Homo sapiens: one gene and its partners. The protein of the gene in region 2 interacts with the protein of the main gene of each other region in a biochemical or structural test. Each region holds a gene or a part of one and is shown on either strand. Other genes may lie near its edges. The genes, in order: CSF1R, FYN, PLCG2 and BCL3.

Region 1 (2,797 bases), on a different chromosome or scaffold from region 2:
GCAAGAATGTTTGGTGTGATAAGGCCTGGATAGAGGCTCACACCTTCCTAAAGCCTAAGCCTGCCACACACTGGCTGGCACACAGGAAGCACCGGGTAAGAGTAGCTGCTGTTGCAGTGTTGTCAAGTGGGACCCTTTAAACCCAGTCTAAGATGTGTGTGGGTGTGCGGGAATGGGGAGAAGACAATGGGCATGGCCTCTTACCTGATCTTGGCCTTTGCAGGGCTGAATCCCTACCCTGGCATCCTGGTGAACAGCAAGTTCTATAAACTGGTGAAGGATGGATACCAAATGGCCCAGCCTGCATTTGCCCCAAAGAATATGTAAGCGAAGGGATCCCAGGGAGGGAAAAGGACACCCCAGGCTTTCGCTGGAAAGGGATGGAAGGCCGTGTGGCCCTGATCTTTCCCTGTCCAAAATGTTCCAGGGTCAGACTTTATCTCTCCCATAGTGGACACAACAAGCCCCTTTTGAGTTCAAGCTATGGGGGATGTTCTCAGAGAAGCAGCTGTTCACTAGGGCTGGTCCTAACCGACCACTTTTCCTTTTTTTTTTTTTTTTTTTTTGAGACAGCATCTTGCTCTGTAGCCCGGGCTGGAGCGCAGTGATGTGTGCAATCATAGCTCACTGCAGCCTCAATCTTCAGGGCTCAAGCAATCCTTTGGCCTCAGCCTCCCAAACAGCTGGGACTACAGGTGTGCACCACCAAGCCCAGCTATTTTTAAAAAATTTTTTAGTAGAGATGGGATCTCACTATGTTGTCCAGGCTGGTCTGGAACTCCTGGCCTTATGCAATCCTCCTGCATCAACCTCCCAAAGTGTTGGGATTACAGGAATGAGCCACTGCACCTGTCCCTAAACAGACTTTTAAGAGATCGTTATTACAGTTACCCTGAGGATACCAAAATGGCCTCATCTGTCAGAATGAGGGTGATGAGAGTACCCTTCTGCAAGGGTTACTGTGAGGATTAAATGGTAAAGCATGCCAAGGACTTGGCATAGGTTTTATACTAAACTTACTTTGACTGGGTTTGGGGACCTCTGCTGGGTAGGTCTCTCTAGGGGTGTGTGTTAATGGCCCCTGGACCCTAGGGAGCTGCCCATGGGCATCCTCTGTCCTATCTCCCAGATACAGCATCATGCAGGCCTGCTGGGCCTTGGAGCCCACCCACAGACCCACCTTCCAGCAGATCTGCTCCTTCCTTCAGGAGCAGGCCCAAGAGGACAGGAGAGAGCGGGTGAGTGGGGTGAGGCTTGGGGTGGGTGGCCGGTAAAGCACGTTGGGCTGGGCCTGATGGATCTGGACTGACAGTTTCTGGTCCCTCCCACCCTCAGGACTATACCAATCTGCCGAGCAGCAGCAGAAGCGGTGGCAGCGGCAGCAGCAGCAGTGAGCTGGAGGAGGAGAGCTCTAGTGAGCACCTGACCTGCTGCGAGCAAGGGGATATCGCCCAGCCCTTGCTGCAGCCCAACAACTATCAGTTCTGCTGAGGAGTTGACGACAGGGAGTACCACTCTCCCCTCCCACAAACTTCAACTCCTCCATGGATGGGGCGACACGGGGAGAACATACAAACTCTGCCTTCGGTCATTTCACTCAACAGCTCGGCCCAGCTCTGAAACTTGGGAAGGTGAGGGATTCAGGGGAGGTCAGAGGATCCCACTTCCTGAGCATGGGCCATCACTGCCAGTCAGGGGCTGGGGGCTGAGCCCTCACCCCCCCCTCCCCTACTGTTCTCATGGTGTTGGCCTCGTGTTTGCTATGCCAACTAGTAGAACCTTCTTTCCTAATCCCCTTATCTTCATGGAAATGGACTGACTTTATGCCTATGAAGTCCCCAGGAGCTACACTGATACTGAGAAAACCAGGCTCTTTGGGGCTAGACAGACTGGCAGAGAGTGAGATCTCCCTCTCTGAGAGGAGCAGCAGATGCTCACAGACCACACTCAGCTCAGGCCCCTTGGAGCAGGATGGCTCCTCTAAGAATCTCACAGGACCTCTTAGTCTCTGCCCTATACGCCGCCTTCACTCCACAGCCTCACCCCTCCCACCCCCATACTGGTACTGCTGTAATGAGCCAAGTGGCAGCTAAAAGTTGGGGGTGTTCTGCCCAGTCCCGTCATTCTGGGCTAGAAGGCAGGGGACCTTGGCATGTGGCTGGCCACACCAAGCAGGAAGCACAAACTCCCCCAAGCTGACTCATCCTAACTAACAGTCACGCCGTGGGATGTCTCTGTCCACATTAAACTAACAGCATTAATGCAGTCAGCCTCTGGTTCTTTGTGCCACATGAGTACCTGCAAATTCCCTGGAACGTCTTTCTTTCCTTCCCTCCTTCACATGAAGTGACGAGCTCACAGCTGTGGAGCTTGACCACACTGTGCCCCATACGATGTGCACGGAATTGACTCCTGCTACACCAAAACCAGATAATTTAATAAACTTTATTCTTGTTGGGGGAAGAGGGAGGGAAAAAAAGCCACCTACTCCACTCAATAAATTAACACATGGCCAATTCCCAGGCCCTAAACAAACCTTGGGCACTTGAGCCAGTCCTGCTGTTTCCTTATGGCCCAGTCTGCTTCCCCTTCATAGAAGGGAGTTTTTCCTACTGCTGCTAGGTTATGTCATGACCAGGGACCACATCCCCTCTGTGGAGAGGGTCCCAGGCCCAGAGAGGATATTGGCTGCAGCAGCAGTGGCCAGGGAAAGGAGGAAGGGGATGCTCTTCCTCAAAGCTTGGGGTGGAGAGGACAGTGCTGGAAGAGAGCTGTGGCTGACTGTTCCTCCCTCCTC
Region 2 (7,037 bases):
GTGTGGAAATGAAGTTGTTGGTGTTTATTTGCCTTTTCAGTAGAATTTAAATTGGGCAGGATTTCACAGAAATACAGATTCAGTAACTTTCTGGGGATTAAAAGAAGAAAGGATTGGGAAAAGTGCCCTGGGCTTTGTTGTGGGAAAGGAGATCTGGCTCATTTTTAATTTTCCATTAAAGCCCTACTTTTCAATATAAAGCAGATGGAATCCTTATACAACTCCATGAAAAGCCTACTATTTTTGGATACCTCAAAGATGGAAGCTCTGAAGAAAATGAAAGTGTTTGACTTCATCAGATAAAATCCCACCAGCATATTCAAAAGGCACAGGTACTTAGAAACCTTTAAATTACAAGTTAAGAGGTCTTTCTGTGCGGATTTATGATCCCGGGCCCCTCTCAAGCTTCGGCACTCTCTGACTCTTGCTGACTGATGGTTTCTACCACTTCTCCGCCTGCTCCCACTACTCTAGTTGGGACTCCCTATGTTTGCTTCCTTCCTTGTCTTCCAGAGCTGCCTGCTGACTCTTCCCTTCTCACTGTTGTTCCCAGATACAGAAAAGATGAGAAGCGTTCAGCCCTGCCTGGCCCATACCCACTGAATCCAAATGAGGCCTGGGGATATGCATTCTATGAGATCTTCAGCATATTTGTGCTCTTTTCTTATTATGCGATAAGACCTGGTTCAATATATTCTGTTTGTCACTCTGCTGGGGTGGACAGGAGAACAAAAGGGCTGATGTTTACTGTGCAGAGTCTGTGAGATACTAGGCTGGGAGCTGCTGGGCACCACCTCCACCCTCACAGTTTACAATCTCATTAAAGAGATGGCGCAAATTTAGTGTGAAGAACATAGATGTTGGAGCCAGACTGCTGTGTTCAGATCCCAGCTCTGTCACTTACTCTGTGACGCTGACTAAATCACTTAGCCTCTGTGACTCAGTTTTTCCATCTTTTAAATGGGATAATAATGGTAGTACCTCCTAGAATTGTGCTGGGTGTTATGTTGACAAATCAATCATAAAATAGAGTCCCTGACTTCCAAAGAGCTCACAAGTCGGTGGGAAAGGCCAGTGCCTGCCCCACTGTCCTACCCAGCTGGTTCCCTCAGCCTTACGAATCAGGCTATGATGAGGATGATGATGAGGTGGTAATCAGGTGCTCTGGGAGCCCAGAGGTAAGAGAGATGGGAGGGCTTCTCAAGAGGCAGTAGGTTTTGAGGGGAGTCATCAGAAAGGGTGAGACTTCCACGGTGGGTAAAGGTGCCTCTGCATCCTGCAACACAGGACACAGAAGTAACTGCAAAGCAAAGGCAAGGAGGCAGGGAATGAGGAACCACAGCTCTGGAGCAAAAGCAGGAAAGAGTTTAGCAGTCACACAGACCTGGCTTCACTAGTTATTAGCTGTGTGACCATGAGCCATTTGCCTCTCTGAGCTTCAGTCTCCCCATTTGACTAATGGGTATAATAATACATGCCTCCTAGAGTTGCTATGATTAAGTACATGACTGTATGTAAGCACCTAACACATGCCTCCGAGTTCAATAAAATGGCAGGTGCTATTATTTCTATGGTGTATTCAGGGAGGAGTAGGTAGCTGTGGTATGCTCTCTACTTTTTTGCAGTATCACAGAAAGGAGAATACAAGGCCAGAAACAAGTAGTCCTCTAAAAAAGCTTTCTGAGTGCAAATAAGCAATGAGCTAGGACTTTCCCATGGTACTTTTTTCTCCCCCAAACTCTTACAGTTAATAGGTACTCAATACATATTTGCCTAAACCAACCAAGTGCTGCTCGAGGTCATGGGTTTACAAGGGCAGAGTATGTGATGATCTCTGCTTCCTAAGTATACCCAAGAAGGAGACCCAAGTCAGGCTTCACTTCCAGACGGAGGTGCACAGCAGGCTGTTCTGGAAGCAGGCTGAGACAAATGGGAAAGCGCTCTCAACCAAATATTACAACAACTCGGAGTCTTACAAACATTGTTAAAGTTTCATGAGTCAGTAAGCATTATCTTTTCCTCCCACGTTTTTATTAGACCATAAATCCAATTCAATTTATATTCTTCCAGGATTACTGCGTTCTAATCAAGTCCACAGTGTCACTTATTCCTAAGTTGTCTATATTGCATGTCACCCAAGTCCATTTGGATAATACCATTCAGGCTTCTCATGTGTTTTAGTAGCTAAAAATTAGATTTGCTCAACTAGAAACACTAAAAAAATTATTATAGTCCTCTAAATAACACAAATCACTCTTTTTTCATAGGAGCCAAATGTGTGAAAGTCATAACCCATAGTTTTTTCTTACTTTATAGTTCATTCTACCTTTAGAAAAGTCACAATGACATTCTGAAGTCAAACTCGAGGGATTTCCATTGTAAATAGGTTAAAATTCTGGTTATCTGACTAAAAGAAACCCTTTTACAGGGTTAACGTCAGAATGCTTTCATGTTTTCCGTTCTCAAGAATGAAGGTGCTGCATTTCTTACTAAAAATGCTGTTTTCAATCATACCATGTAAGTAAATTTCCCAACTTTTCTAACAATTTTTGATTCAGAACCGACAATCACCCAAATCTCTTTCTAAAATATTCAAAGTTTCCTTACATACACACAATATATTGTCATCATCCCTTCCCTAAAGCATGTATGTCATATGTGTATATATACACATACACACATACATATGGATTAACAACAGCAGCAAACACATAGCTTTTCCTATGTGTAGGACACTGTTCTGAATATTTGACATGTATTAACTCACTGAATCCTCACAGCAACCCTCTGAGGCAGGAACTACTATCTCCATTTAAAGATGAAGAAAAGGAGTCACAGAGAGACCAGGTAACTTGGCCCAGCCCACACAGCTGGAAAGGGTCAAACCCGGACCCTACCCCAACCTCATGCTTTTGTTTTGTTTTCTTTTGTTTTGAGACAGAGCCTCACTCTCTCGCCCAGGATGGAATGCAGTGGCACAATCTCAGCTCACTGCAACCTCTGCCTCCCAGGCTCAAGCGATTCGCCTGCCTCAGGCTCCCAAGTAGCTGGGATTACAGGCCTGTGCCACCACACCGGGCTAATTTTTGTATTTTTAGTAGAGACAAGGTTTCGCCGTGTTGGCCAGGCTGGTCTTGAACTCCTGACCTCAGGTGATCCACCTGCCTTGGCTTCCCAAAGTGCTGGGATTACAGGCGTGAGCCCCCGTGCCCGGCCCCAACCCCATGCTCTTAACCACACCACACACCTGGGCTGAGAGGTGTGAAACCTGGTGACTTTGCCATCTTGGACAAGTTGCTTAACCTCTTCATTTAACTTCATTTTTCCTCACGAGTAAAATGAACATGTTGACTACATGATCTCTAAGATTCCATGGCCTGTGCCCATGAAAAACCGCAAGAGTCCTTCATGGTTGTATGTTCTACAGGCTTTGATATGTGTTTTTACCCTGGCTGGGGAGCAACAGATTTCTAGACTTCTCCCCCTCTAGTTCTCCTGATGCTGCTTTGGGCAGGTTCAGATATCTTCAGTGCTAAATCCAACTGCATTTTTTGTTCTTTATGTTGCTCAACTCTGAAGCTGGTCTAGTACTCCGCAGGCTCCTCTCCCATTCTGGGCCTGACTCCTCCTCTGTTCCTGGGCTTGCTCTCTGCCCTTTCTGCTCTTTCTACTCCACACATTCTCCCTGGGTGACCTCACCCACATCCATGGCTTCAATTTTTGTAATTTGTTTGCTAACGAATTTATATTCAAGACCTAGTCCTGGCTGGGAGCAGTGGCTCATGCCTATTATCTCAGCACTTTGGGAAGCTGAGGTAGGTAGATCCCCTGCAATCAGAAGTTCGAGACCAGCCTGGCCAACGTGGCGAAACCCCAATAATTAGCCGGGTGTGGCGTTGGGTGCCTGTAATCCCAGCTACTCGGGAGGCTGAGGCAGGAGAATCGCTTGAACCTGGGAGGTGGAGGTTGCAGTGAGCTGAGATCACGCCATTGCACTCTAGCCTGGGCAACAAGAGCGAAACTCCGTCTCGGGAAAAAAAAAAAAAAAAAAAAAAAAGACCTAGTCCTCTTCCCTCACTCCAGACCTCTCTATTTACCTGCCTATGAGCTACTACACCTGGAAGTCTAAAGTGTTTAAGATAAAGTCATCGCTTAGATACCTGCCCCCTGCTTTCCTTATTGGACTGCTTGTCTCTACCTAATTTCCCAGAGAAATTCTTTTCTACCTACCCCTACACCCTGTCTACTGCTCTCTAATTCTTTTTTGCTCCATCTGCACCTCCTTTCCTTCCATTTAGACCCTCATCTACTACTCATTTAAGTTTCCATAACTACCTTCCCTGCATTAGTTCTGCCTGCCCTCGGTCAAAGGCCCATACTGTGGCCAGATCTTTATAAAAATACAATCACATCAAAGCCACATCTCCACTTACAACTCTTAAATGGCACTCAGGATAAAGTACGTACAAGAATCTTTCTCAGTTTCTCCTTCAGCTCTGTCATTTCCCTTTGTCCATCTCTGTACCACTCCAAACAGCCCTGAACTAACTGCAGTTCCCCAAAAGGTCTGTGCATTCGCCCTCTGGGCTGTTCTTTCTGGGACAGGGAGCTTCCCACAACACTCACCTAGCCATCTCTACTCATCTTGCCTTCAGACCCCTCCTCTTCCAGCCTTCTCTGCTTGGCTATCCCACTTGCCCACCTCTTTTCCAGGTTCATGCTCCATTCTGCACACTCTCTGCCATCCTACATGGACCCCTAAAATCCCAGCATTTCTAACATTGGTCAGAGACTCCTTTATAGCTCTGCAAAACTAGCAAGTAAGTTCCTTCGGGACAGGATCACATCTCTTTTGCCTTGAACCATCGAATTAATTGTCTGGCAAATAGAATACGCAATGAATGAATGCTGTTAAATGAGTAAGTATGTAGACAATTCATAAACTTATACAGACCTAATTGTGTACCACAGAAAGACCCAGCTTTAAATAATCACACAGAGTAAAATTATTTCCAGTATCGACATGCCTTGCTTTACCATTGTTTAATTTAATTTTGTATTTCCCAGGTAAGTAGTAGATAAGTGTCTGAATGGAAGGAGGGTAGGGATGAATATTGTATTTCTATTTGGCTATAAAATTATATTTCTCATCAACCAAAAGTCTTAGTTTCTAAAGCATTTCAGTCACCCTCCCTTATGGCACATAACGTATTTTAATATCATCATTATATGTAGTATTTTGAATATTACCTAGTGGCTAAGGGCAAAGGCTTTGGAACCAAACTAATTGGACCTGAATCCTGACTCTACCACTTAGTAGCTGTATGATCTTGAATTAGTTACTTAACAAGCTACTAAAGTTTGCTTCAATTTCCCATCTGTAAAACGGAGATTATAAGTGAAACCACTTCATATTATTATTGTTAAGATCGGAGCTTAAACAGTGCTTGGCATATAGTAAATGCTCAACAAATGTTAACAATTATTAATTATTTTTATCTCTTCTAGTAGACCGTGAACTTCTGAAAAGCAAGGACAGCAGAAGTATTCATTTCCAGGACCTCATCTCCCCAGTGCCTTGCACAAAGTAACATACTAGGCTAATGTCTGCAGAACAGATGAATATAATGAAGTATTCATGGCAAAAAAAAGTGCATTAACAATTATGATGGCTGGTATGAATGGAATTGCTCCAACAATTTGGAAGCCTGTGGAGAACAGGGACTACCCAGAACACTAGAACCCTGCTCATGGAGATTTGGAAGCTCACTTAACCTCCGTGGAATATGCAAGACTCACAGACAAAGAGGGCAGCTGAGTGACAGAGGAGACCCATGTGGGCCTGAAGAGCTGGCTGGCTGAGCCTCCTGCCCTTCCGTTAAGAAGCTGCAAGGCCTTGGGGCAAGGAGTTTCACCTCTCAGGCTAATTAATTTCCTCTTCCAATTAAGAGGGAGTGGGACTGTGATTTCTGTTTTTCTTTTTGAGATAGGGTCTCACTCTGGAGCCCAGGCTAGAGTACAGTGGTATGACCTCAGCTCACTGCAGTCTCTACCTCCCAGGCTCAAGTGATCCTCCCACCTCAGCCTCTTGAGTAGCTGGGACCACAGATGCATGCTACCATGCCTGGATAGTTTTTAAAAGATTTTTCGTGGAGACGAGGTCTCACTATGTTGCCCAGGCTGATAACAAACTCTTGGGCTAAAGTGATCCACCCACCTCAGCCTCCCAAAGTGCTGGGATTACAGGCGTGAGCTGCAACATCCAGAAGGAGTGTGATTTCTAAGGACTCTCCTAGCAACTTTGGGAGTCTACAGAATGACCAGATGAAAAATGAAGCCAAGAAAGGTGCTTTTGGAGTAAAAGAACCACATCAAAGTCAACACAGGAAGCATCAGATGATTGTATCACATGGGATTATTGAGTAGGAATTGGCAACATTTGAAACATAAAATTTGAAACATGACAAAAAGTAAGATTTTTGAAACATGCTTAGGATGAAAAGATCTAAACTTATAAAATCAAAAGAAAAGCAATGACGGGTGTCCGCTCTAGGTTTCTATTTAATTCCCATTAGCCTATAAGTTTCTTGAGGGCAGTGAATGTGCCTTGATAAGTGGCAGTGTTTGACAAAGCTGTTCAATAAAAATACATTTATTCTGTATCTTTTTTCTGAGCACATGGCTAAACTACATTTCCCAGGCTCCCTTGCAATTAAATGTGGCCATATAACTAGCCCTCAAGTAAAGAATGTGAGAGGAAGTGATGGTGGCACTTCCAGGCTAAGGTATTTTAAAAGTGGGTGTGCCCCGTCTACTCTCTGTTGCCCCTTCTGTAAACTGAAACAGGTTACGATGATAAGCTATGGGATGGTGGAGCTACAAGATAGGGGTGTGGGACCCAGAGTCACTGCATGGAGGAAAGCCACCTACCGACCAGAAACATGAATTTTTGACTATTAAATGAGCAAGAATAAACGTCTATTGCTTTTGAGCCATTATATATTTGCAGGCCTATTTGTTACACCTGCTAACATTAG
Region 3 (7,037 bases), on a different chromosome or scaffold from region 2:
ATCAAAAGGGCCTGACCCGCGTCTACCCAAAGGGACAAAGAGTTGACTCTTCAAACTACGACCCCTTCCGCCTCTGGCTGTGCGGTTCTCAGATGGTGGCACTCAATTTCCAGACGGCAGGTAAAGGCCGACTGAAGGTAGTCCCGTCCCTGCAAGGTGGCGGTTGCAGTCACTCCAGGCCGAGTCACCTTGGGTCAGCGATACCATGTGGTGTCCAAGAATGAGTGATTTGTCCGAGGGACTGCACGGTTCAGCAGAGTAATGGTTAGTATGAGGTCCAGCAGCTGAATGGAGGGATGAGAGGACCGAAGGCTGCTTGGCTTACGCAGGCTTCGTGATTGTAAGTAAGTGACAGAGGCTGAGTTAGTCTGGCTTAGAAAAAGAAAATGCATTAGTTCATGTAATTAAAGCATCTTTGGAGTTCTCTTCTCCAGGCCTGTTGCTGTGTGAGGGCTTTCTGCTCAGACTTTCTTCCAGAGACATTTACATGCTGGCATAACTAACATACACAAACTTCTGGACACAAAGTGATCGCATAAATCACGGGGCTTTGTGCTTTTGTTGTTGTTATTTAAGACCTCTTTCGAGGGATCTATTCATCAGTAGCCTCCTTTACATTCTTTTTATAGCCACATCGGATTCCACAGAATGGAACAATCATTTATTTAATAAGTCCCCGTGGAGGCACATGTAGGTATTCCCCATTATTTGCTGTCATAGACAGCACTGCCTTCTGTACCCTGACGTGAGCGCCATTCCACAGATGTAGGAATATGTCTATGGGACAGAATTCTCAGAAAGGCAGGGTGGGTCAAACAGCGCTTGCATTTTGATCAACTTTGCCCTGAGGAAAACCACTGAAGACGTGCCTGAGCTAAGCCACACTGCCAAACTGCCCTCCATAGAGATCGTGGGCGGGGATGCAAATAGGTGGAGGTTGGAGTACGCTCTTTTGGTATGACTTCGCTGAGTTTTGTTGAACTTTTTGCCGTTTGCACAACTGAGAGGTGAAAACTGATACATCGTCGTCCATTAGAGCTTCTTCTTGTAAGGGACATTAACCAGTTTTTCCCTCATTTAGGGAGCAGTGGCATTTTCTTTTCTGGGAACTATTTGTGCTTCTTACCTGATGTATCTACTGCAGTAGGTATTTATAGCATAGATGTATCAGAACTAAGAGGTTAAAAATTTATATTCACATATTTGTCATTTGAATTAAAATTGCCTATGCAATTTATTGCTACATAGACACTTTTAGCAAGTTTGAATCTTTTCTTTTATGATTCGGGATTTGGTGACATACTTGGAAAGGTGTTCCCCAGTCTGGGAGTTTGCTGTCTAGAAACCCTATATTTTCTTTGAGTGAGATACCTATTTGAACAGCTGCCTCACATTAATTTGGGGAAAAGGTGAAATTCATTCCCCACCTAGAAACTCCTGGCCTAGGGGGCCAGCGTGCTCATGCCTGACTTACAGCAGGCGTTCACTTTCCTTCCCAGATAAGTACATGCAGATGAATCACGCATTGTTTTCTCTCAATGGGCGCACGGGCTACGTTCTGCAGCCTGAGAGCATGAGGACAGAGAAATATGACCCGATGCCACCCGAGTCCCAGAGGAAGATCCTGATGACGCTGACAGTCAAGGTAAAGCCAGCCCTCCCTTCCTGCCAGGGGAGCCAGCCGCCCTCCCTGGGGGCTGGGCCGATGCTGTCTTGAGAGCAGGGAACCCATGTCTAGGGAGGCTGGTTGTCTTGTTTAAACGATCCCCATTCAGGCAGTGTTTGAGGATCTTTCTTTCTTACAGTACACTCCGGGGTCGTTCTGGGAGAAGAGGGAAGAGAGGGGAAACCTCCTCAAACCCACTTCCCCTTGTCCTCTGTGGGGGTGAGGTATGACCCTATCTTTCTGGGGTCCTGGTGAGGTCAGCCTCTGGCCGGAAAGAGAAAGAAAACATGGGAAACAGCCATTTGGTCTTAATGGAGAAGTTTTTTCCCTTACTTTGTCCAATTCCAGGGCTTTTTAAAATTCATCTGACTTTCAGAGAAAGTGTTGTTGCTTTGTAAGAATTTTTGAAAAGTAGAGAAATGAATTGCATTTCTCCTAAGGTTAAGGGCGGGCGGGTGGTAGGGGGAAGAAGCATACGTAAACACAGGCCTTTAAATAAACAGCAGTTATAAAAAGAATGCCACACTGTTCCTCAGCCTTTCCTAGGGGTGTGGAAATCCAGTGATTAAGCTCTGCCTTGATCAGAGGCACCTGCTTGGGCATGGATGTGTGCATTCATGAGCTCAGGTGAGTTTTACCTGTTGAGTCAGGTGGCATATGGGGCCGAGACCCAGGCTGATGCTGAGGAACTGTGGGATCTACCACAGTCCACCTTCATCCACTGCAGAAGGTTGCTCCGGCTTTTCCAGTGAATCTAGGAAAATTAGGGCTGGCATTGAACTCATCCAGTGTCACTCTAGAACCCAGCTGCAATCCACGCTAGGCTGCCTGTTCAGGACCCCAGGGGGGTTCCAATGCTTCCCTTTGGTGTCCCAGGTTCTCGGTGCTCGCCATCTCCCCAAACTTGGACGAAGTATTGCCTGTCCCTTTGTAGAAGTGGAGATCTGTGGAGCCGAGTATGACAACAACAAGTTCAAGACGACGGTTGTGAGTAAGTCAGTCACCTTGGCCCCTCTGCTTTTAAACGTCCGGCCAGTGAATCCTTTGTGGGAGTGCTCTTCGTGGGGGATTTTGCAATGCTCTTTAGTTGTCCCAGGGTTTTCTTTCCTCCCTCTTGCCCACATGGTTCAGCTTGAGGAGGGGATACATACAAAGGGCCACTTTCTGAAATCCTTAGACTTTCCCCAGTGCTGTTTGCCTGCCTGTAACTCAAGTCCGGAATCGTAGGTGAGGCCCTGACACTAGGTTGGTCCTCTCTGTGCAACAGCCCAATCTGATTAATCTCCTGAGTCAAAGGCCAAGAGGCAGAGACACAGAGAGAGGGGGTGAACCTACGTGGCTGACCTGACCCAGAGGATCAGCCTAACCTGGGAGATCTTAGCCCCTAGAGGGCAGGAGGGACAAGAGGAATGCTTGCTCTTCCAGGAAAAGCCAGGAGGGAACCGTGATTGGTGGGCCTTCTAAAGCACAGGATCCTTGCCCCTGGTAAAAAGTAGCCCAATGAACAACTCAGATGCTGACCAAATAAACTGGCATTTATGGAGAGTGGCAGGATTGCTGCTTGCCTGCTCTGTGAGGCTGGGCTCTCCCCTGCCAGCTGTAGAACCCCCTGCTGGTGGATGTGGCTCCCAGGCTCTCCTCCCCTTTTGTCTTTTCCAAAATCCACCTTCCTGCTCTGCAAACAAACACCTCCCCCGTTCCCTTGTCCCTGATCCTGGGGCGGGGAGATGGGAGGTGGTCTCCTTCCTCTGCTCACCAAGGGACCAGCCTGCAACAGCAGCTTCCAGGATTGCTCAAGGTGGGGTGGGGGAGTGAAGATAATTATTCAGATTTTCTTAGATCTTGGCATAGATGCATATTTATTTACATGGTTGCTAAGGGGATTCACAGCTGAAGGATGCGGAGATTGTCTTACCAGAAGGGGGCAGCTCCAATGTGGCCTCTCATGAGCTTTGATCTCCTTCCAGATGATAATGGCCTCAGCCCTATCTGGGCTCCAACACAGGAGAAGGTGACATTTGAAATTTATGACCCAAACCTGGCATTTCTGCGCTTTGTGGTTTATGAAGAAGATATGTTCAGCGATCCCAACTTTCTTGCTCATGCCACTTACCCCATTAAAGCAGTCAAATCAGGTAAGAGGCATTTTAATTAAGATGTTCGATTTGGGCTGGCGTTGTACTTTGGTTTGGCTGCTGGCTTCAAAAAGAATGAAAAATGATTTTTCCTGGTTTGGATGGAATCACTGTAAAACCGATTGGGTGGCTTGGAGAGCAGGTGTACAGCCTGTCGTGTAGCACACAGGTGGGAGGAAGTGGGTGACAGGGGAGGCTATGCCCCTCAAAGTGGGATGTTTACAAGCAAAACTGGATTGTTAGTGGATCCTCAACCTGGCACTGCAGTTTGATTTCATTTTGAAATATTACATGCGGTTTGCTTCTCCCTAGCTAGGGCTAAGTCTGGTTTGATCTCCCCCTCCTGCTCTCTGGCTGGCAGTGTGAGAGGGTGGCAAGGGAGAGACCTTTGGCATCTTGGGGGGGGAGTAACAATCTCGAGGGTCCAACTCCCCAAACCCTTCAGAATTCACCTTCTTCTTCTATAAAATTGGGTGGGTTAATTTACTTCTTTGAGTTGTTACAGTTTTCTTCCCTGCTGAAGAAAACACAAGATCCCTTCATGGTATAAGAAGGGTCATTTTGTATTTTTCTGCAACCAAGCCAAGCTGGGTCATACGACCAGCTCTTAAGAACCCTGCTGAATCCCAGATGACTGAGCCCTTCCTACACAGCTGAGATAGACACTTCCAGGTGAGGGGATTTGGGACCCTGCTGCTTCTAGAGCCAGTCATTTACAAAAACAAAAAAAACTGGCTCTCCTTAGCTTCTATATAGTTTCTCTAGTTTACTTTCCCACTGGATCTTTCCCACTGGATTTTAGGTATAATATTTGACAAATAGGCCCTTGCTGGATGTTGAATTTTCCTTCTTCCTCTTCCTTTAGTATTTCTGATGCATGGTGCATGAGATATGAGATCATAGATTCTTCTGGATTCCTCAAGAGGTCACTGTTCCCTTGTTTTCTGAGGATCATTTTTCAAGAGAAAGATGACTGTCATTTTAGTTACTTACATAAAAAAATACAGTCTTTTGATATTGTTTGGAAACGTGGGGCTCAATGAAGAGCTGAATTGGATCTTTTTTGTTTTCAGACATTCCCTCAACTTCCACCTTTTTTTGTATAATATCATAAACCTGACCATTTCTGCTACTGGGCAGGAGCCCAGTTTCTGAGCAGCAGGCATGCTAGAAAATCCAGGTGCTGGCCGGGCACGGTGGCTCACTCCTGTAATCATAATCCCAGCTACTTGGAAGGCTGAGGTTGCACCACTGCACTCCAGCCTGGGTGACAGAGCAAGACTCAGAAGAAAGTGCAGGTTCCTGGACCCACCACAGGGTGATGAGTCAGCCCAGGGTGGGGCCAAGGAATCTGCATCTTTAGGCAGCTCCCCAGATGGTGCTTGGATGGCACTTTGACAGAACCAAACTATGTCAAGGCTGCCTATCTTACCATTGAGGAAATGAATTCCTTAGCAAGTTACTAGATGAAACAAGACTTTGGGAAAATGTTTAAAGTTTCTGATTTTTTTTTTTTTTTGTACTCTAGAAATGTTCATTTTCATGAACATTGCTACTCTAGCAATAATAATGAGTATTCATTTGTAAGAGGCCTGATATTTGGCAACCCTTCTGGGTTAACTCACCCACACTGTAAACTCCCCCTTTTTTTTTTTTGAGATGGAGTCTTGCTCTGTCGCTCAGGCTGGAGTGCAGTGGGTGATCTCGGCTCACTGTAACCTCTGCCTCAGCCTCCTCAGTAGCTGGGACTACAGGTGTACACTACCACATCTGGCTAATTTTTGTATTTTTAGTAGAGACGGGGTTTTGCCATGTTGGTCTGAAAAAAAGTGATGGGATTAAAGGAGTGAACCACTGTGCCTGGCCTATAAACTACTTTAAACCCGGCACTGATCAGGGCTGTGATTCCTTAATTTGCTTCTTTTAGATTAGTCTAATAAGGCTTAGGAATGACACCAATTCTTCTGGTGCAGGAAGTGTAGCTTTTGGTACACCTTTACGTTCCTAGCCTTGACGCTGTAACAGATTTCTTTTTATGGTAACTGCCTGCCAGTTCCTCTACTGAACTCATCCAGCAGAGAGGGGCAGCTGTGCTGAAACCCCTTGGTTACCCCGACGTCCTCTTGAAGGATGAGGGCCTTGAGCCTCATAACCCCTCCCAGTGCCTTGCAGAGATGTCAGAGTTGATGATAAAACCTCGTTACCTTAATGGGCATCAAAGTGTGTCAATTCATCTGCAGAATGCAATGACTTAGCTTGGAGATTTGGAAAAAACAAAGGTCAAAACCTCAAGGGAGATTAAAAATGTGACCTTCTCCTCCCCCGACTGTGAGATACTCTCAGCAGGGACCTTTCCTCACTTCTTTCTAGCTCCTAGCAGTGCCTGGCACATCCATATTCATGGGAGGAATGAAATAGAATGAACAGGAGGCATTGAGGGTCTTCCATACTGAAAAAATAAACTTCACCCATTGTCATTAGAGATGCACTGAAGCTTTTAAACCAGTTGGAGCGCAGGAAGGAAAGCAGCAGCCTTTATTGTGTTAGGTACCTTAAACTCTTTCTCTTTTAATCCTCACAGTAATCCTGTGAAAGGGGTTTTATCTTTGGTTTTAAAATTCTGAGCACTTTGAGGCCGAGAGACTATGACTTAACTTGCTCAAGGTCACACACCTGTAGGACCAGAGCTGAGATTCAAACCCAGGAATGTCTAATTAATTTCGAACCCCGTGTTCCTCCTCTGCAGGCTGCCCTCTCACTGGGTGCTCAAAGCCAGATGCATTGATCTTACTTTAAAAGGTGTCTGTATTTCCCTTTCCCCAGTGAAATGACTAGAAACAAGAAGAAGAAAAACAATTATTTTTTTTTTTTTTATACAAGGAGGGCTGCCCAGTGCATAAAAATGGGACTTGGGCAGCGAGAGAAGGTACATAGAGCTGGAGACAGCTGGTCATGAGGGCAGAGCTCATGTCTCCGATTTAAGAGGCACACGCCTAGTGTCAGATAGTACTGTCCAGCCTGGAACCATGCTATTGGAGTGTAGGGGCTACCTGATAGCCTCCCGGAATGCCATGGAGCAAACAGTCATTCCAGTTCATTCTAACAGTCAATCAGCAGCTAGACTGTATTAGTCCGTTCTCACACTGCTATAAAGACATACCTGAGACTGGGTAATTTATAAAGAAAAGAGGTTTGATTGGCTCACAGTTCTGCAGGCTGTACAGGCTTTTGTTTCT
Region 4 (7,037 bases), on a different chromosome or scaffold from region 2:
TCTCATGCCACAGCCTCCCGAGTAGCTGAGACTACAGGTGCCCACTGCCAAGCCTGGCTAATTTTTGTATTTTTTGGTAGAGACAGGGTTTCACCATGTTGGCCAGGTTGGTCTCAAACTCCTGACCTCAAGTGATCCACTCGCCTTGGCCTCCCAAAGTGCTGGGATTACAGGCATGAGCCCCAAGCCCACCCCTAGAACACTATTTTTGGAACGGTGGTCTTTAGATATTTTGTCACAACCTAAAAACAAGAAAGACAGTTCATTGATTAACTTACTATATGAATTATACATGTAAAACTATCACTGGACCTGGCATAAATGTTGAGTAAGTGTTTGTTAATATTACTATTATTTTATCTCAAACCCAGCACACACACACACACACACACACACACACACAAACTTGAAATTAAAATTGCACAAAATGAAACAATACTCGCCCTTACTATGTGGGTTCTACTGTGACATTTTCTTTTTTTCTTTTTTTCTTTTTCTTTTTTTTTTTTCTGAGACAGGGTCTCGATCTGTCACCCAGGCTGGAGTGCAGTGGTGCAATCATAGCTCACTGCAGCCTTGATCTCTTGGGCTCAAATGATCCTCCCACCTCAGCCTCCTGAGTAGCTGGGACCACAGACGCTACCCCCACACCTGGCTAATTTTTGTATTTTTTTTTTGTAGAAACACAGCAGTCTTGCTATGTTGCCCAGACTGGTCTCAAACTCCTGGGCTTAAGTGATCCTCCCACCTCAGCCTCCCAAAGTGCTGAGATTACAGATGTGAGCCACCGAGCCCAGCTTACAGCTTTACTTTGCCATTTTCTATTCTAGTCGACTTCATTGTTTCATGGTCACAGCCCACTACATTAATTTGAAGATCCCCTAAATTGATTTCACAACCCCCATGGTTTATCACCTGCAGTCTGAAGAACATGTTTGTGAGGCTGCTGAGAAGTCCTGCACGGGAGGGTTTGGTCTGTGCCTAGCACATAGTAAGCACTCACTGCAATTGATCATCATGATTCTTATTATTCTATTGACCTGGGTTGGAATCTCAGCGTGGCCACGTTCTACTCCCTCTGTGCCTCAGTTTCCCTCTCTGTAAAAACAGGAACCATCGCGTGTGAGGGTCTCTGGGAGGAAGAAATGACATGATTTATACAAAGCACTTCTGTGAGAATTAGTTTGGGGCCTGGAAACCACAGGTAGAGATGAACAGGCCTGTTTCTGCAGAGAAGTAGCAGAGGGCTGCTCCGCCACTGGCCCACTGAGTGATTTCATGTCCCTGAGTCTCAGTTTCCCTATTTGGAAACTGGGTCTCATAATAGCACCTATCACAATTAGGATTCAGTGAGATCTTGTACACATGTATTAATACAGTGCACAGAACAGGGCTGGGCAAACAGTAAGTGCTCAATGCATGGAAATGGGTAATGTTTGAGCAGAGCTCCCAGGGTGGTTGCAGGCCATCTCCAGAGCCCTAGCAGGAGAAAGTGGCCTAGATTATAAAGAGCTAATAAAACCTAGTTCCCTCCCCTTCTGGGTACCTCTGGGGGGTCATCTATGAAATGGGCTTAATCAGACAGTCTCTGCCCCCAGTGGTGAGCTGTCCATGCTGTTGAAAAGCAGGGTGCTTGCCAGAGGCCACCCGGCCCACCAGTCTCCAGCCCCAGGCCCTCCCCACACCCTCCCTCTCCGACTCTCCCCCAAGGCAAACACTTCTGCCTCAGCTGCCTGCTGGGGGAAATCCCTTCCCGCAGAACTTGACCGCAACCCAGCTGCTCTGCCTCCCCCACGTCAGCACCCGTCACTCACTCGCAGCCTCCCCCCTCCTGGCGCTTCCTCCAACCTTAACCCCTTCCGCTGGGGCTGAGACTTTACCGGAACGGGCAGCGGCCCGGCCCCAGCCTGCGCCACCGGCTCCTCTTCACACCCGCGGGGGAGGGCAGTGGGGGCGAGGAGGGCGGGGGACGCTAAGTCTGGGTCCCCGCAGAAGCCAAAAGGTTGGGAGGCTGGGCTTCCATCTCCTCACAGGCGGGTACGAGCCTTGGGGCATTTGGACCCCCAAGAGGTTAGGGACTGGGCAGCCAGAAACCTGGGGAGGGGGCAGGAAGGCGGGGGCGGGGGGGGGGGGTGATGTTCTGATTCTCAGAAGGCAGAAGTTGGGGAACTGTATTCCTTAATCTCCGAGGGGATGAGGAGCAGCTTGGCAGCTTGGGGACCTGGCACTCAGAGGGGCTTTACGGGCAGGACCAGATACAGAAATTTGCAGAGTCCCTTGTTCAAAACTTAAGAATTTCACGACAGCGGCAGCAGGACGTTGGGCTGGTGAAACTGGTCACGCCAAGGGGCCTGAAAGTCTGTGTTCCCAAAGGGCCAGGGTTTGAGGCGCTGTATTTCTGGGTCTCTGAGGGGACAAGGACTGGCAAGGTAGTTTGGGATCCTGGAGCTCTGAAGGACGGGGGAAGTCCTTATTCTTAAAGAAGAGTTAGGGCTATTTCTGGCTCCCAAGAGATGTTGGGGGTGGATGCCGGGATAAGGAGGACTTGCAGCCAGCTGGAGCCTGAGCTCTGCGGGGTGGAGTTCCAGAGGGTCCCCCAGGCGGGAGGACTCGGGATTATGCGCCCCCCCTACACACACACACCTCAAGGGAGCTAGGTCTTCTTGGGCTGGGCACTCCCTTCCCCCGCCCCATTCGAGGATGGAAGTTGGGGTGCCAGGGGTGGCCAGGGTAGATCCCCGGCGGGACAGGCTTCCCTCCCCCGGGAGCAGGAAGCAGAGCCCCGCCCAGCAGACCTGTTACTGGAAGTCCGAGGGCTGGGTCGCCCCTCCCGTCCCCACTTCCTCCAGCCCCGCCCCACCCCCTGCGGCCCGCGCGTTTATGGGAACTCAGGCCTGGACGGTTTCTCTGAAATCATTCGCTGCGTCTGCCCTCACTTAACCCTGGCCGCCCCGAGAGGGACCCAGGCCAGGCGTCCTGGGAGATGCAGAGAAGGGGGGACCCTTCCCAGGGACCCCGGCCCCTCCCTCAACATTTTATTTTTAAATTTGGCTTTCACGGATTAGGAGTCAGGTTCAGCGATTCACCTGCGTGATCTCACCCTGGCATGTGGACGCTGTACTTTACATAAGAGAAAACTGAGGCTCCGAAAGGCCCCCATGGCTTTGCCCTAGCACGCGGCTACGCTAGGAGGGGTTGTGGCCCAATTTGCAACTCTGGCCCCGGGATTTCTGCACTCCATCAGAACCACCTGGGAGGCTAGTTTAAACTGGATTCTAGAGACACATTCCACAAGAGAAACGGGTGCTGGTGAGAAAGGAATTACTTAGTAAACTTTAAATAAAGATCCTGCCACCCACTGTGTACACGCAGTCCTCCTTGGGTCCTCCACTCTGTCCCCCACCCCATGCAAACAGCACAGGCGTGCACAAGCACGCACGCATGCACACACACCAGTCTCTGAATAGCTGTTCTAGGTTGGGGTCTCTGGAAACTGAGCAGGAAGTTTATTGGAAATGCTCTCCATCAACACCTGTGGGATGAAGGAAGCCCATCTGGGCAGAGGGAGAAGTTGAGCTGCTGTGTCGCCTCCACACGGCCTCAGCTGTCCCACAGGGAATATTGAAGCTGGAATGGCCTTCAGCATTGGGGTCAGGAGGCTAGGCCTTCTATGCTGGCATTAACCAGTGACTGGATGCCATTGAAGGGCAGCTGCCCTTGATTCACATGGGGCGTGACCTTGGACAAGCAGCTCTCTTGAGTTGAGGGTAATTCCCAAATGGTCTGAAAGCTGACAATCTTCCCAGAAGCTGAGGGAGTGAGTCCTTCAGTCTAGAAGGGGGTTCTGGACTGTACCGCCTCCAGAACAATGGCCCCATCCCAGTTTGTCCTCACCTCCCTTTTAGTCAAAACTTTTGTTCCAGACTGGGCGTGGTGGCTCACGCCTGTAATCCCAGCACTTTGGGAGGCTGAGGCTGAGGCAGGAGGATCACTTGAACCCAGCAGTTAGAGACCAGCCTGGCCAACATGGTGAAACCATGTCTCTACTAAAAATACAAAAGTTAGCTGGGCGCGATGGCACACATCTGTAATCCCAGCTACTCAGGAGGCTGAGGTTGGATGATCGCTTGAACCTGGGAGGCAGAGATTGCAGTGAGCACAAGATAGCACCACTGCACTCCAGCCTGGGCGATAGAACAACACTCCGTCTCAAACAAATAAAATAAAATAAAATAAAAGGGTCCCTCTGGCTGTTGTGTGGGGGACAGACAGTAGAGCATAGGTGGAAGCAGAGAAGCCATGAGGATGGAACTGTACTAGACCAGCAGGGAGCCAGTGGTGGCTAAAGCAGGATGGAGGGAGCGGGTGGTAAATCAGGATGGAGGGAGTGGGTGGGGAGAAGTGTTTGAATACTGGGGACATTTCCAAAGTATTCAACACATTGGAGTTAGCATTGCCAACAGCATGAGGGTGAGAGGTGAACAACCCCTAATGCCTGTGATTCCTTCACTCCCCCACCCCCAGGCCTCTCCATATTGCTGTGGTGCAGGGTAACCTGCCAGCTGTGCACCGGCTGGTCAACCTCTTCCAGCAGGGGGGCCGGGAGCTCGACATCTACAACAACCTACGGCAGGTGAGGCTCGGTCTGAGGGAGGAGGGCTGGGGCCTGGACTCCTGGGTCTGACAGAGGAGGGGCTGGGGGCCTGAACTCCTGGGTCTGAGGGAGGGGGGCTGGGGCCTGGACCCCTGGGTCTGAGGGAGGAGGGACTGGTGCCTGGACTCCTGGGTCTGATGGAGGAGGGCTGCGGGCCTGGGATCCGGGGTCTGATGGAGGAGGGCTGGGTCCTGGGCTCCTGAGTCTGAGGGAGGAGGGCTGGGGATCTGGACTCCTGGGTCTGAGGGAGGAGGGCTGGGGGTCTGGACTCCTGGGTCTGAGGGAGGAGGGCTGGGGTCTGGACTCTAAGTAGCGAGGTGCTCCAGGCTCCTGGTTCCTGGGGAAGAAGGGCTCTGGGGCCTCGGACTGGTTGTTCCTGAGAGGGAGGGGGCCTAAAGACCTCCTAGTGAGGAGGGAGGGGGCTGGGGACCCAGAATTCAGGTACTAGGGAAAGAGGAGGTTGGAGGCCCAGTCTTCTGGGTCCTGGGGAAGGAGGAGCATGGGGCCCGGACTCTTGAATCTGAGACAGGAGGTGTCTCAGGTTTCTGTTCCTGGGGAAGACTGCAGGATGAGGAATAAGGGTTCAGAAAACCTGGGGGAGGCAGGACTAGAGAGCAGGGCTGGACACAGGTCCCTCACAGTCACTGTTCCCCAGACACCGCTCCACCTGGCTGTGATCACCACATTACCGTCTGTGGTCCGGCTCCTGGTGACAGCTGGTGCCAGCCCCATGGCGCTGGACCGCCATGGCCAGACGGCCGCTCACCTGGCGTGCGAGCACCGCAGCCCGACCTGCCTGCGAGCCCTGCTGGACAGCGCAGCTCCGGGCACGTTGGACCTGGAGGCCCGCAATTATGACGGTAAGCATTTACCGCGGGGCACCGCTGGGCTGTCCAGCGGACCTGGAGTCCATCAGCGGCCGCAAAGCCCGGGCCTAGGTTTCACCGAGCCCTCCTCTCCCTCAGGGCTCACCGCCCTGCACGTGGCAGTGAACACCGAGTGCCAAGAAACCGTGCAGCTCTTGCTAGAGCGCGGTGCCGACATCGACGCAGTGGTGAGCGTGCACTAGGAGCTGGGAGGGAGCGGGGCCTTAGCAGGGGCGGGGTCTTGGCGGGGGCGGGGCCAGTGTGGGGCTGGCGTGGGAGAGCACCCGGGTGGGGTGGGGCTTGGAGTATCAGACCCAAGAGAGAGGCTGGACCCCGCGAATGGGATGTGGACGGGATGCGGGTCGCCGGCTGCTGGAGCAGAGCTTGGAGAAACTAAGACCTTCCCTCCCCGCCGCAGGACATTAAGAGCGGCCGCTCCCCGCTCATCCACGCCGTGGAAAACAACAGCCTTAGCATGGTGCAGCTGCTGCTGCAGGTGCGTACAGCCCCCCTGAGCCTCGCGCCCACCCTATCCTCTGACCCCAACCCGGCTCTGGCCTCAGCCCCTAGCTCTGACCCCGCCTTCCACTTCTGGCTCCGGCTCCTGCTCCGCGTCCAGCTCTGATCCTTTAAGGCCTAGTTTTCTCGACCCTCGGGCTCCACGCCCCTGGCTACGAACTTGTCCCATTCCTCCTCTGCCACCTCAACGGCCTAGGCCCCGCCCTGCGATGGCCTGGCTGACCCCGCCTTCCAGCTAGGCCCTGTCCACGCATTGTCCTTCCCCCCTCCAGCTCCCCCGACTCCTTGGGGCGCGGGCCTCGGTGTCCAGCTCCGGTTAATTCATCGCCGCCAACGCAGTCCCGCTTGGCCTGCCCTTGGCTCTCGCTCCTACCTTCCTGTGACCCCACCCCGATCCGGTGCCGCCCCACGTGCCGGCCACCCACCCGGGCCTCCAGCCTCTGTTCCCTTACCCCGGGTGGCCCGCGCGCCCTCCTGACCCGGCCCTCCCGTCCCGCAGCACGGCGCCAACGTGAACGCGCAAATGTACTCCGGCAGCTCCGCCCTGCACTCAGCGTCCGGCCGCGGGCTCCTCCCGCTGGTGCGCACGCTGGTCCGCAGCGGCGCTGACAGCAGCCTCAAGAACTGCCACAACGACACGCCGCTCATGGTGGCGCGCAGCCGCAGGGTGAGCCGGGGCAGCTGTGGACATGCCCCTTGCACACGTGTGTCCGCGGGCTGGTTGCAGGCGAGTGTGCCAGAGCGCAGAGGAGTGAGGGTGTCTGTGCCGTTGCGTGGAGGGGAGTGGGTGAGCCTCTGAAAGCGCGGGTGTGAGTTCCAGAAATGAGGAGAGACTGGCACCAAGAAAAAAAGTGCCTTGCCCATCTTTTCATACTGAGAAGTGGAGAGGCCACCACCTGGATCCAGTGAGCTAGGAGGGATGGGAGAGAGGACTGTGAGGCATGGGTGGCTCTATGGTCACGCCCATCTTCCTACAGGTCATCGACATCCTGAGGGGG

The links.
Region 1: the proteins of FYN (region 2) and CSF1R form a complex in vitro, tested with the Homo sapiens proteins (one study listed by BioGRID).
Region 3: the proteins of FYN (region 2) and PLCG2 form a complex in vitro, tested with the Homo sapiens proteins (one study listed by BioGRID).
Region 4: the proteins of FYN (region 2) and BCL3 form a complex in vitro, tested with the Homo sapiens proteins (one study listed by BioGRID).

What each region holds. Positions count from the first base shown.
Region 1 is NC_000005.10:150,052,763-150,055,559, reverse strand, and holds the end of CSF1R (macrophage colony-stimulating factor 1 receptor isoform a precursor), read left to right. Parts: intron 1-223; coding exon 224-323; intron 324-1,129; coding exon 1,130-1,238; intron 1,239-1,335; coding exon 1,336-1,491; 3' UTR 1,492-2,265; downstream 2,266-2,797. UniProt on the Homo sapiens protein: Tyrosine-protein kinase that acts as a cell-surface receptor for CSF1 and IL34 and plays an essential role in the regulation of survival, proliferation and differentiation of hematopoietic precursor cells, especially mononuclear phagocytes, such as macrophages and monocytes.
Region 2 is NC_000006.12:111,863,426-111,870,462, forward strand, and holds part of FYN (tyrosine-protein kinase Fyn), read right to left. Parts: intron 1-7,037. UniProt on the Homo sapiens protein: Non-receptor tyrosine-protein kinase that plays a role in many biological processes including regulation of cell growth and survival, cell adhesion, integrin-mediated signaling, cytoskeletal remodeling, cell motility, immune response and axon guidance.
Region 3 is NC_000016.10:81,936,259-81,943,295, forward strand, and holds part of PLCG2 (1-phosphatidylinositol 4,5-bisphosphate phosphodiesterase gamma-2), read left to right. Parts: coding exon 1-120; intron 121-1,499; coding exon 1,500-1,645; intron 1,646-2,542; coding exon 2,543-2,657; intron 2,658-3,633; coding exon 3,634-3,801; intron 3,802-7,037. UniProt on the Homo sapiens protein: The production of the second messenger molecules diacylglycerol (DAG) and inositol 1,4,5-trisphosphate (IP3) is mediated by activated phosphatidylinositol-specific phospholipase C enzymes. It is a crucial enzyme in transmembrane signaling.
Region 4 is NC_000019.10:44,751,708-44,758,744, forward strand, and holds part of BCL3 (B-cell lymphoma 3 protein), read left to right. Parts: intron 1-4,524; coding exon 4,525-4,633; intron 4,634-5,309; coding exon 5,310-5,514; intron 5,515-5,619; coding exon 5,620-5,708; intron 5,709-5,938; coding exon 5,939-6,016; intron 6,017-6,538; coding exon 6,539-6,706; coding exon of another isoform or gene 6,707-6,838; exon of another isoform or gene 6,839-7,014; intron 7,015-7,016; coding exon 7,017-7,037. UniProt on the Homo sapiens protein: Contributes to the regulation of transcriptional activation of NF-kappa-B target genes. In the cytoplasm, inhibits the nuclear translocation of the NF-kappa-B p50 subunit.